Linked DNA regions of Homo sapiens: region 2 is linked to region 1. The links come from fine-mapping of genetic effects on gene expression. A gene starts in region 1. The other region holds a variant in brackets. All regions are shown on one strand. Distances are between the middles of the regions.

Region 1 (5,380 bases):
TAAATATGTATTAAAAGTAGACAGAAAGAATATCAACTTCAGGTTAATCAAGAGAGGGAAGAGGAACATAGGTATTGAAAAATCCAACTGTAGTTAATGTTCTATTGATGTAAAAATTCTTTTTTAAGTTTTTACTGCTTTTAATTGTAGAAATAAAGAGCTAAACCATAGCATAACTCTTTTTGCAGTGACAATTCTGTTCATATACAGGGGATGTTTCTGCTTTAGCTAAAATCTAAAACTTCAATAAATAAGCAACTACCCACCAATCCCTCAAATATGCCTGTACTTGTCACTCTTTTTCTCTTTTTCTTTTTTTTTTTCTTTTGAGACAGACAGGGTCTCTATAACCCAGGCTGGAGTGCAGTGGCACTATCACAGCTCACCACAATCTCAACCTCCTGGACTTGGGTGATCCTCCCACCTTAGCCTCCCAAGTAGTTGGGACTACAAGTGCGCACCAGCACGCCCGGCTAATTTTTGTATTTTTTGGAGAGATGGGATTTCTCTTATGTTGCCCAGGCTAGTCTCGAACGCCTGGGCTCAAGCGATCCACCTGCCTTGGCCTCCCAAAGTGTTGGGATGACAGGTGTGAGCCACCGTGCCCGGCCCCCTTCACTCTTCTATACCACTTATTTCCATTTATGTCTACTTAAAAAGTGGTACTAGACCTAAAGAAGGGGAAATTGATTGGGAAGGCTTGCTTTCTTTCTTTTTTTTGAGACAGAGTCTCACTGTTGTCGCCTGGGCTGGAGTAAAATGGCGCGATCTCAGCTCACTGCAACCTCCGCCTCCCGGGTTCCAGCAATTCTCCCGCCTCAGATTCCCGAGTAGCTGAGATTACAGGCGCCCACCACCATGCCTGGCTAAATTTTTTTTGTATTTTTAGTAGAGACGGGGTTTCACCATGTTGGCGAGGCTGGTCTCAAACTCCTGACCTCAGGTGATCCACCCACCTCGGTCTCCCAAAGTGCTGGGATTACAGGCGTGAGCCACCGCGCCCGGCTGAAGGCTTTCATTTTTACCCTAGAAGGTCAAGTACGTGTTTAGGAGTCCTTATCTTGAAGTTTGCTTCTAGTCATTGTTTCACTTTTAATGGGCAGAAGATTATTACCACAAATTTCCTTTGTTGTTATTTCTGCCTCCACAGTCTTTTATAATTTAGATGTAGTCCCAATAAAGATATTCTGTTGTAATCATTTAAAATGACACATTTCATCATTAAATACTTGTGTTTTGGATTTCCTCCTCCCACTTAGGACTAGATTGCCCACTGCATCTGAGATCTGTCAAAGTAAACAAATGGTTTAAAAGAAATCAACAGATTTCTCAAGAGTTATATTTTAAAAAGCATCTTTAATTTGAAGCAAGTTATCATTTAAACATTTTTCTTAATAGGTCACTTAAAAGTTCATGTATAACTCAAAATGAATTATTAAGGAAATAAGAAATTTCATAACTCAAAATGAATTATTAAGGAAATAAGAAATGACTTTAAATCATTTATAGGACTAAAATGGAACTACAAAATTTCTACCCTCCGCTCTTATACTAACCAATCATGTGCCTTGTGCTTTAAATCGAAAGGAACTTTGTAAAGCCAGGATCATTTTTCAGTAAGAGTATCCGAAACGATCTATACCACCTTGGCATGAAGAAAGAGGCAGTTAATAAGTTATCTTTCCTTTCTACCATTAAAACAATCCCTTTGTAGGATATCTGAACCCTTGGCAATATCTCACAGTATCTCAGTTTCAGCACAGAGGTGGCTCCTTTCTCTGGGTGTTCAAAGCAGCACTGCATGAAGGCTCTACGTGTCGGCCCTACTGGTTAAGAACGGGCTGCAAAATGGTTAGAATAACGGGGATACCAGCATTTACATCATAGCGGGATAGACGGTTTCAAATGTATTTTAGTAAAGAACTTACAGCCTCATGTCATAGAGGCTCTGGAAGTGCCAAGTATTTGGTGAGAATGACAAACCTGCATAGACCAAAAAGGTGATGAGTGCAGCCAGCAGGTGGATACGAAGCTTGGTTCGGACTTCCTGGAAGTGCAGCAGAGCGCTGTGGAAGAGAAAGGAGCAGACGGCCTCTGTGATGACCGCTTTGAGCAAGTCGACTCGGATGGGATTCTTGCAAGCGAAGCTCCTCTCGCTGACGTGATACTGGGTCAGACCCAAGCTCCACAAGGCGCTTGTGCAGTACCTGCTGCACAGGGCACTAACCAGCTGAGCCAATAGCCTCACCGCACCCGTCTCGGGGGACATGCCCCCCAGCATCATCTGCATCATCACGCCGCACGGGTTGCTGGACGTGCCCACCAGAGTCAGGCCATGCACAAGCGAGAAGAAGTAGACGAGCGTCAGCGTCCAGGTGGGGTGCGCGGGGTGCTGTTCGCTCAGCAGTTGCAGCTCGTGGGTGCAGCAGCAGAGCTGGAAGGTGGCTAGAAACTCCAGGACGAAGGCGTGGGCCACCGGCCTGTGCAGCTGCTGCCGGGCGACTACGCGGGCCAGCCCCATGAGCAGCACCACCGACAGCATCAGTCCCAGCGAGGTGCAGGTGTCCTGCAGCTCGGACCGGAGCCCCAGCAGCGGCGACATGGCTCCGTCGCCGCCTGAGCGGGTTGCGGGCTCCGGCTCTGGGTAGGAGGCGGTCTCCAGGCCCGAGTCCGAAGTCCGCAGCCCCTCCCCTCCTCACGCCCCTCGGGGCGGGACGAGCGGGAGGCTCCCGAGCGGCACACTTAAGAAGTCCTCCCCGCCTCCCCGGCTTGGCGCTGGGGTGTTGGAACCAGAGCCGAGGAGGCGGGGAGGCGGGGAGGCGGGGAGGCGCGGGGAGGCGCGGGGAGGCGAAGGGAGGTAGCCTAGGGCGCCGGCCGCAGGGCCAACGGTCAGCCGAGCCCACCGCGCACTCACCCTCCGCAGTCTCCCTCAGGGCCTTGTAGGCGGGCGCGGCGGCGGAGGGCCGGCGCGGCGCGGTCGACGCAGCGCTCTTGGTGCCCACTGCGCACGCGTGCTGCGGCCCTTGCGCCCCTGCGGGCGGTGACACCCGGACCACGGGGCGGAGAGGAGCGGCACGGCGCGGCGGAGCTCTGATGGTTGCTTTGCAGCGAGGACCTTAGAGTTTTTCTTTCCCCGCTCCACACTGTAAAACCGTGGAGCTGGAAAGACCGCTGAAGGCCATCTCACATAGCCACCTCGTTTTTATCAATGGGCGACTGAAATTGAGAGGGGAGACGCGGCGCAGGGGGCGGGTGAGTTAGTGGGCGTAGACCGGTGCGCAGGGCCTCCTGGAGCCTTGCTTTTCTTCACCTGCCAAAAAACATTTCTAAAAATGGTGGTAATATATGCCAGATAAAATTCGCCACTTTAATCAATTTAAGTGTATATTTCAGTGGCATCGATTACCCTCACAGTGTTGTTCAACAGTCACCTCTTTTTTCCAGAACTTGAGCGGTGATTCTTCAAAGTGTAGCCTAGTTTTAGCATGTGACTGTCTATAACCTTTGGCATGAACTCTTTACGTATAATATGAAACAGTTGTGTCTTACTGTTACATGCACTCTTCGTGAAGAGGAAACAACAGGTAACTGGAGAGGTCTGTTTCCAAGAACTGGGGGTCCTGGCGCACCTCTTCCATCTGCTTTGAAAGCAGGAATACGGCTGCGTGAGGTGGAGCGCGTCCGGAGTCCCAGCACGGAGAGGCTTAGGTGGGAAGACCGCTTGACCCCAGGAGTTCCAGGCTGCAGTGAGCTGAGATCGCGCCACTGCACCCCTGCCTGGGCCACAGAGCGAGACGCTGTTTTTAGAAACAAAAACAACAACAAAAACCGGGCGCGGCTGGGCGCGGTGGCTCACGCCTATAATCCCAGCACTTTGGGAGGCCGAGGCGGGCGGATCACCGGAGGTCGGGAGTTCGAGACTAGCCTGACCAACATGAGAAACCCCCGTCTCTACTAAAAATACAAAATTAGCCGGGCATGGTGGCGCATGCCTGTCATCCCAGCTACTCGGGAGGATGATGCAGGAGAATCGCTTGAACCCGGGAGGCAGAGGTTGTGGTGAGCCTAGATCGCGCCATTGTACTCCAGCCTGGGCAACAAGAGCGAAACTCCGTCTCAAAAACAACAACAACAACAACAACAACAACAACAAACCAGTCAAACAAACAAAAAACAAAACATGAAAGCCACTTAGTACAGTTCCCAATACGTAGAAAATATTCACTAAGTGGTAGCTTACAGTGGAAACAGCAGGTTTCAGCAGCCAGAGTGCACGGCTCTTGCCACCGCATTCCAGTCCCAACAGCTTGTCCCCTGGGGTGGCCCATTGTAGGTGCAGCACTTTGGGAGTCCGAGGCAGGCGGATAACGAGGTCAGGAGTTCAAGACCAGCCTGGCCAACATAGTGAAACCCCGTCTCTACTAGAAATACAAAAATTAGCTGGGCATGGTGGTGCGCACATGTAGTCCCAGCTACTCGGGAGGCTGAGGCAAGAGAATCCCTTGAACCCGGGAGGTGGAGGTTGCAGTGAGCCAAGACAGTGCCACTGCACTCCAGTTTGAGCAACAGAGTGAGACTTCGTCTAAAAAAAAAAAAAATTCTTTCACAAGACACAAACTAGTAGAAAATCAAGACCTTTTCTCTTTCCTGTGTTGATTGCCTGGCCAGAAAGAATTTAAATTAGAATTATTTATTATTATTATTTTTTTAAGACAGAGTCTCGCTCTGTCTCCCAGACTGGAGTGTAATGGCGTGATCTCAGCTCACTGCAACTTCTGCTCCCGGGTTCACGCCATTCTCCTGCCTCAGCCTCCCGAGTAGCTGGGACTACAGGCGCCTGCCACCACACCTGGCTTTTTTTTTTTTTTTTTTTTTTTTTTTTTTTTTTTTTTTGTATTTTTTAGCAGAGATGGCGTTTCACTGTGTTAGCCAGGATGATCTTGATCTCCTGACCTTGTGATCTGCCCGCCTCGGCCTCCCAAAGTGCTGGGATTACAGGCGTGAGCCACCGCGCCCGGCAATTAGAATTACTTTTAAGTCACTGCTGTTTAAAGAAGTTGCCTTTAAATCAATCCTATGAATGTAACCCTTTCAGTGCTCCCCTAGACTTGAAGTCACTTGAGGATTAATGTGAATGTATTTTATTTACTGCTCTGCTGATAATTCACTTTTACCCGGAAGAGTCATGTAGAAAACCAGTGTTTTGGACTTTGGTAAGAAATTTTAGTATCGTGGTAATACATATTGTCATTAAAAGGACTTTGGACATTTTTTAAATTAAAGAACAAGGGCAAAATTAACATAATTAATTACTACTGATTGGATATTTTGCATCAAATCAACCTTCCTATTTTCAGAAACAAGAAATCACCAATTAAAG
Region 2 (5,380 bases), 61 kb after region 1:
ATTTAAAATAACAAGGCAATCTGGAAATACAGCCAGTAGGGGGAAAAGTGTCAGTTTGACAAGCTGGCACTAGCGTTCTGATGGGGAGAGACTGTTTTGAGTTAGCAAAATAATTTAGAATCTCTGTCAGCTGGAGCAAACAAAAGGAGCAACAAATTGCCTTGCACAAAAGGAAATGGGAATTGGCAATAAGTGCTTTGGAGTTTACAGCCAGATTAAATCTGGAAAATGAAAAGGGGAGGAAGGGAAGAGGGGGAGAGGGTGGGCAGCTGGTGGAGGCATGGCCAGTGAGAATTGTCCAATGCCAGGAATGACTGGTGGACTCTTAAAAGAACTGTGAATACTTGGTTTCAAGATGTTCTCTGAGCTTCAATATAAGCTAGCCCCTCTAGCCCCCAAATCTTTCCTCAAAGTTTGCTAAACACACAACCGTATTTAGGCCATCTTTTGGGGAGAGAAGAGGTTGAGCAAGTGTCCAACAGGGTGATGTGTTGTAGAAGAAAGGGCAAGGTGCGCAGGAAGTATGAGGGGTGGAGATCAAGGCAGAAAATCAGAGGTAGAGGTGATCAAAAGAAACATACCTCTGGCTCAATATGAGACCCTTCAGAGATATCGGTAGGGACTTGGGTTTCATGACATTCATAGGATAGGGGTTTGAGCAGGATTCTTTTATATCTCAAAGGTTGGGGAGACTCCAGAAGGTTGGAGGACCTTGTGAAATATATGGGGGTTGGGTGACATGCTGAGGTGAGGAGAGGGAGAAGCCTTGGAAAATTGTTTAGAAGAATACACAGCATAAAAAATTTACCCATGATGCTAAGATGATAGCAATATTTATTTTTCTTTCTGTTCATCTCTATCTTGATTCTTCTATAATAAATCCATTTTACTTGAATAAATTTTAAAAAGAAAATATACTGAGTGGATAGATCAATCCACAGGTATAGAAAGCTGTCTGGTTGTTATCAGGAGCTGAGGGGAGAGGGGAAAGGGGAGTAATTGCTTAATGGGTATAGACTTTCCTTTTAGCATGATGCAAATGTTTTAGAACTGGATAGAGGTGGTGGTTGCACAACATTATGAATGTACTCAATGCCACTGAATTTTCACCTTAAAAAAGTTAATTTTATGTTATGTGAATTTCACCCCAATAGGAAAAAGGAGGAAAAAAATGTACTGGGGAACAAGACAAGATCAATCAGACTCTGCCACTCTTCTGCTGTAAGTCCTTCAGAGCCATCCTAACTCTTTGGCCTGGCTCCTCATGGCCTATCCCTGTCACTGCTCCAGCACAGCTACCTCTCCCTATAAACCTTGCTCTCCCAGTCATTCAAAACCATGTGCAGTGCTCTGAAAAGGCCTATTCTTTTCCGTCTTCTTGCCTTTGTATGGGTTTTTTCTTTTCTTGGAATGCCCTCCCCTTACTTTCTGCTCATCCTTCAAAACTCTGCTAAACATCTTCTCCTTTGAGATGCTGTCCCTGATTCTGTAGTCTGGGAGTGTCTCTTTCCTGCATTCCAAGAGCCTTCTGGGCATTTCTCTGTTACATGTAGGTGATTGTGAACCCCTGGAGAACAGAACCCAGGCCTTCCCCTTTGTTTACCTTCAGAACTTGGCTCAGGACAAAAGCTACAAGGAATGTGGAAAAAATAAGAATAGACATAGAATCACTGAGACTAAAATAACATCTTTTTCTAATGTAAAAGGTTGCCCTGGGCATGAAGTTTAAAAGGACTCAAAGATGTTGAAGTGGCTTACTGAGGCATATATCAAGACTGGTGATATAATATCTTTCCTCTGTCCCCTCCTGCCTTCTTCCTTTTTATGAATTATTTAGAGATTGCAGCATAGATAAAAATTCCAAATAGATTAATAAAAATGTGACTCTAAGTAGCAAAATGATTCTAAATGGGCCTTATGAGGTGGCAGAATGCTGATAGTCTTAGGAAAATAAGGCTAAAAGCTCAATGATTCTTGTGTAAATACACAATAGGTCATAAAATGTATATTTTTGAGACCTACATCCCATCTCAGGATGGTGTTTAAAAATACCTGTCTTGCGGGATTAAAAATGAACTTAATCCCTAACAAAATAACAGATCTAGGCAAAAATCATCAGTGGTTGCTAAAATTATTAGGTGAATGGTTGATAAGAAACTTTGCAATAGATAGATGAGGCTGACAACCTTTGAACCTACTGTACCACCTTTGCATTATTAACAGTGGGACAGCCAGACATTAATTGCCTCCTGATATGATGTAGTAGGAAGTATACAACACCAATTAAGAAATATTCTTGCCAAAATAATTGAACCTGAATTTAACAATTTTCTAACCACTGGTTTGTGAGAAATATGAAAAACCGAGAAGCATGCAAATTGACACCATAAGGATATAAAACATCAAATAAAAAAGATGGGAAATTCTCCAAGACACATGACTCAATTTCTTCAAGAAATAAATGGTATGAAGAAAAAGGGAGCTGGAAAAGTACAGATTCAAGAAGACTTGAAGACTTAAGACAGGTTGGGTGTGGTGGCTGATGCCTGTAATCCTAGCACTTTGGGAGGCCTAGGTGGGAGGATTGCTTGAGGCCAGAAATTTGAGACCAGTCTGCTCAACATAGCAAGGCTTCATCTCTACCAAAAGTTTAAAAATTAGCCAGGCGTGATGGCATGTGCCTGAGGACGCCGAGGTGGGAGAATCACTTGAGCCCAGAAGTTTGAGGCTGCAGTGAGCTATGATTGTGCCACTGCATTCCAGCCTGGGCAACAGAGGAAGACCCCATCTCTTAAAAAAAAAAAAAGAGACATATGTAACACATACAAACAAAAAAAAAAGTTATTTTTTGGAGATAATGTAGGAAAATTACGTGGATTGGATATTAGATAATATTAAGGAATTACTGTTAAATTTATTATGTGTGATAATGGTATTGTGGCTATGTTTTCTTAAGTTCTTATTTTTAGAGATTGAAATATTGATGATGAAATGATAAACCTTGAATTTACTTTAAAATGCTCTCCCAAAAATGTGTTTGTGGGGATAGGCTGGGTGGGGTGGCCCATGACTGTAGGATTGCTTGAGCCCAGGAGTTCGAGACCAGCCTAAGCAGAATAGTGAGATTCCGTCTCTACAAAAAATAGAAAAAATTAGCTGGGCATGGTGGCACTCGCCTGTAGTCCCAGCTACTTGGGAGGCTGAGGTGGGAGGATCACTTGAGCCTGAGAGGTTGAGGCTCCAGTGAGCTGTGATTGAGCTACTGCATGCACTCCAGCCTGGGTGACAGAGCGAGACCCTGTCTCAAAAAGAAAAAAAAAAGTATTTGTGGGGATAGATAAAACAATGATGCAG[A/G]GTATTAATAATTATTGACTCTGGGTGATAATGAACACATGGATTCATTACACTTTTCCTTTTTGTGTATAAAATTTTCCGTAAGTTTCTAAAAATAAACCTAACATTCAGTGGCAATGTAGTAATGTTAATAAGCCCATCTGCTGAGCCAGGACTATATCATATGAGAGCATTGTCAGACCAATGGAAAGATCTTGGCTTTGGAATCAGAAAGGTGTGAGTTTGAACCCTAGGTCTGCTACTTACTACCTCTATTACCTTGGACAAGTTACTTCTCTGAATCTGTTTTCTCACTCATAAATAGGGATAACATTACCTACATCAGAAGATTGGAGGGACATGTGAGGTGATCTATATAAAGTATCTATCATGTGCCTGGCACAAAATAAATGCTCTATAAATTAATGACCCAGGCCCAGTACGGTGGCACAGGCCTGTAATCCCAACACTTTGAGAGGCTGAGGTGGGCAGATTACTTGAGCTTAGGAGTTAGAGACCAGCCTGGGCAAAATGGTGAATCCCCATCACTACAAAAAATACAAAAATTAGCCCAGTGTGATGGTGCACACCTGTCATCCCAGCTACTCAGGAGGCTGAGATGGGAGGATTCCTTGAGCCTGGGAGGCGGAGGTTGCAGTGAGCCGAGATCATGCCACTGGATGCCAGCCTGGGCAACAGAGTGAGAACCCGTCTCGAAAGAATAAAGAAAATAAAAAATAAATTAACTACCTTATACCAATCCACTTATTCTTAATTTCCTTTATTGGTTTTTACAATAGATTTAAATAATCCAGAGTGTATGAAACAGAGTGAAATTTCCCCTCACCACACTCCCCAGTCTCACTCTCCAGAAAAAGGAGGCTTTAGCATGTATCTTTCCAGCCCTTTTTTTTTTTTTTGCGATGGAGTCTCACTCTGTCGCCTAGGCTGGACTGCAGTGGTGTGATCTTGGCTCACTGCAACTTCCACCTCCTGGGTTCAAGCAATTCTCCTGCCTCAGCCTCCTGAGTAGCTGGGATTACAGGTGCATGCCACTACACCCAGTTAATTTTTGTATTCTTAGTAGAGACCGGGTTTCACCATGTTGGTCAGGCTGGTCTTGAACTCCTGACCTCGTGATCCGCCCACCTCAGCCTCCCAAAGTGCTGGGATTACAGGCGTGAGCCACCACACCTGGCCTCCAGCCTTTTTCTTTATGTCTATAAATATACACAGGTATATGCAACCACATGTGGTGTTTTTTAACAAAAATGAAACCACACATATAATATTGTTCTGCATTTTACTTTTTCCACATTACAATACATATCTTTTTATGTCATTTCATATGATTCTACAGTTATAATTCAATAAACAATGTTACTCTTATGCCTTTGCTCCCTGGTGTATTTCTGTGAGCTAGAATCCTAGAGCAGAGTTGTTGGATGGAAGGCTATGTGTCATGTATCTTTTGTCAATACTACAAAATGGTCCTAATGTCCCTCCACACGTTATTTGGTTATTTTCACCTCAATTAAGATCTCAACATTATCAATTTTCCATACATTTCTAAGTTGCATTACTGTCTTTCTGGGTACCACTTCTCAATTGGCCATGAAAAGGTGTCAAAGAATAAATGCGTTAGATTAGCAAAAATCAGCCTCATGGAAAATAGTCAAGCTCCATCCTGCTATTTGTCCCTGTTAGAGAATAATAGGCTGCCTGCTGTTTTCAAGGCTGGATGTAGTGGTGGATTGGATAAAATAAATGAGAGTCCTAGTTTTCTTTGTGAAGAGCTAGTGAAGATTATGTGAAGCAGGATTCTGAAAGAAAGCAGGGGAATAAAACCTCCTCTCCAAAGAGGTCCCAGCGGATGGCAACAGTGCAAAGGTAGACAAAGAAAGAAAGGGGAAGGAAGTGCCACTTTGATTCCCTGGGGAGTTCAAGATCTCACTTTTCCCTCCTGTTGTTCTAGTGACTTTTAGAAAGGACAATTCCAGAGAAAGATGGTTTCAAAAAGAAAAGAAACCCAAACTGAATCCAATTC

Which allele goes with the higher level. Alleles are on the strand shown, and positions count from the first base shown. SD is a standard deviation of normalised expression in the study named.
With allele A in place of G in region 2, the expression in anterior cingulate cortex of the gene that starts at base 2,642 in region 1 is lower (small effect, 0.38 SD a copy in GTEx).

Evidence for each region. PIP is the estimated chance that this variant, and not a neighbour inherited with it, causes the effect. A credible set is the group of variants that fine-mapping cannot tell apart.
Region 2: its variant is the best candidate, but not a certain one, in a credible set for the expression of AQP11 in anterior cingulate cortex (GTEx, PIP 0.69).

Annotation. Positions count from the first base shown.
Region 1 is chr11:77,587,215-77,592,594 of GRCh38, reverse strand. AQP11 (aquaporin 11) reads right to left here and starts at 2,642. Exons shown (of 3, transcript NM_173039.3): 1 at 1,984-2,642. The coding sequence starts at 2,602. RefSeq lists a silencer at 2,666-3,295.
Region 2 is chr11:77,525,789-77,531,168 of GRCh38, reverse strand. It overlaps a transcript of PAK1 not described here. Among named protein-coding and RNA genes, the nearest start is that of LINC03030, 43 kb to the left of the region's middle. RefSeq lists a silencer at 5,331-5,380. The variant A/G (reference allele first, on the strand shown) is at 3,355.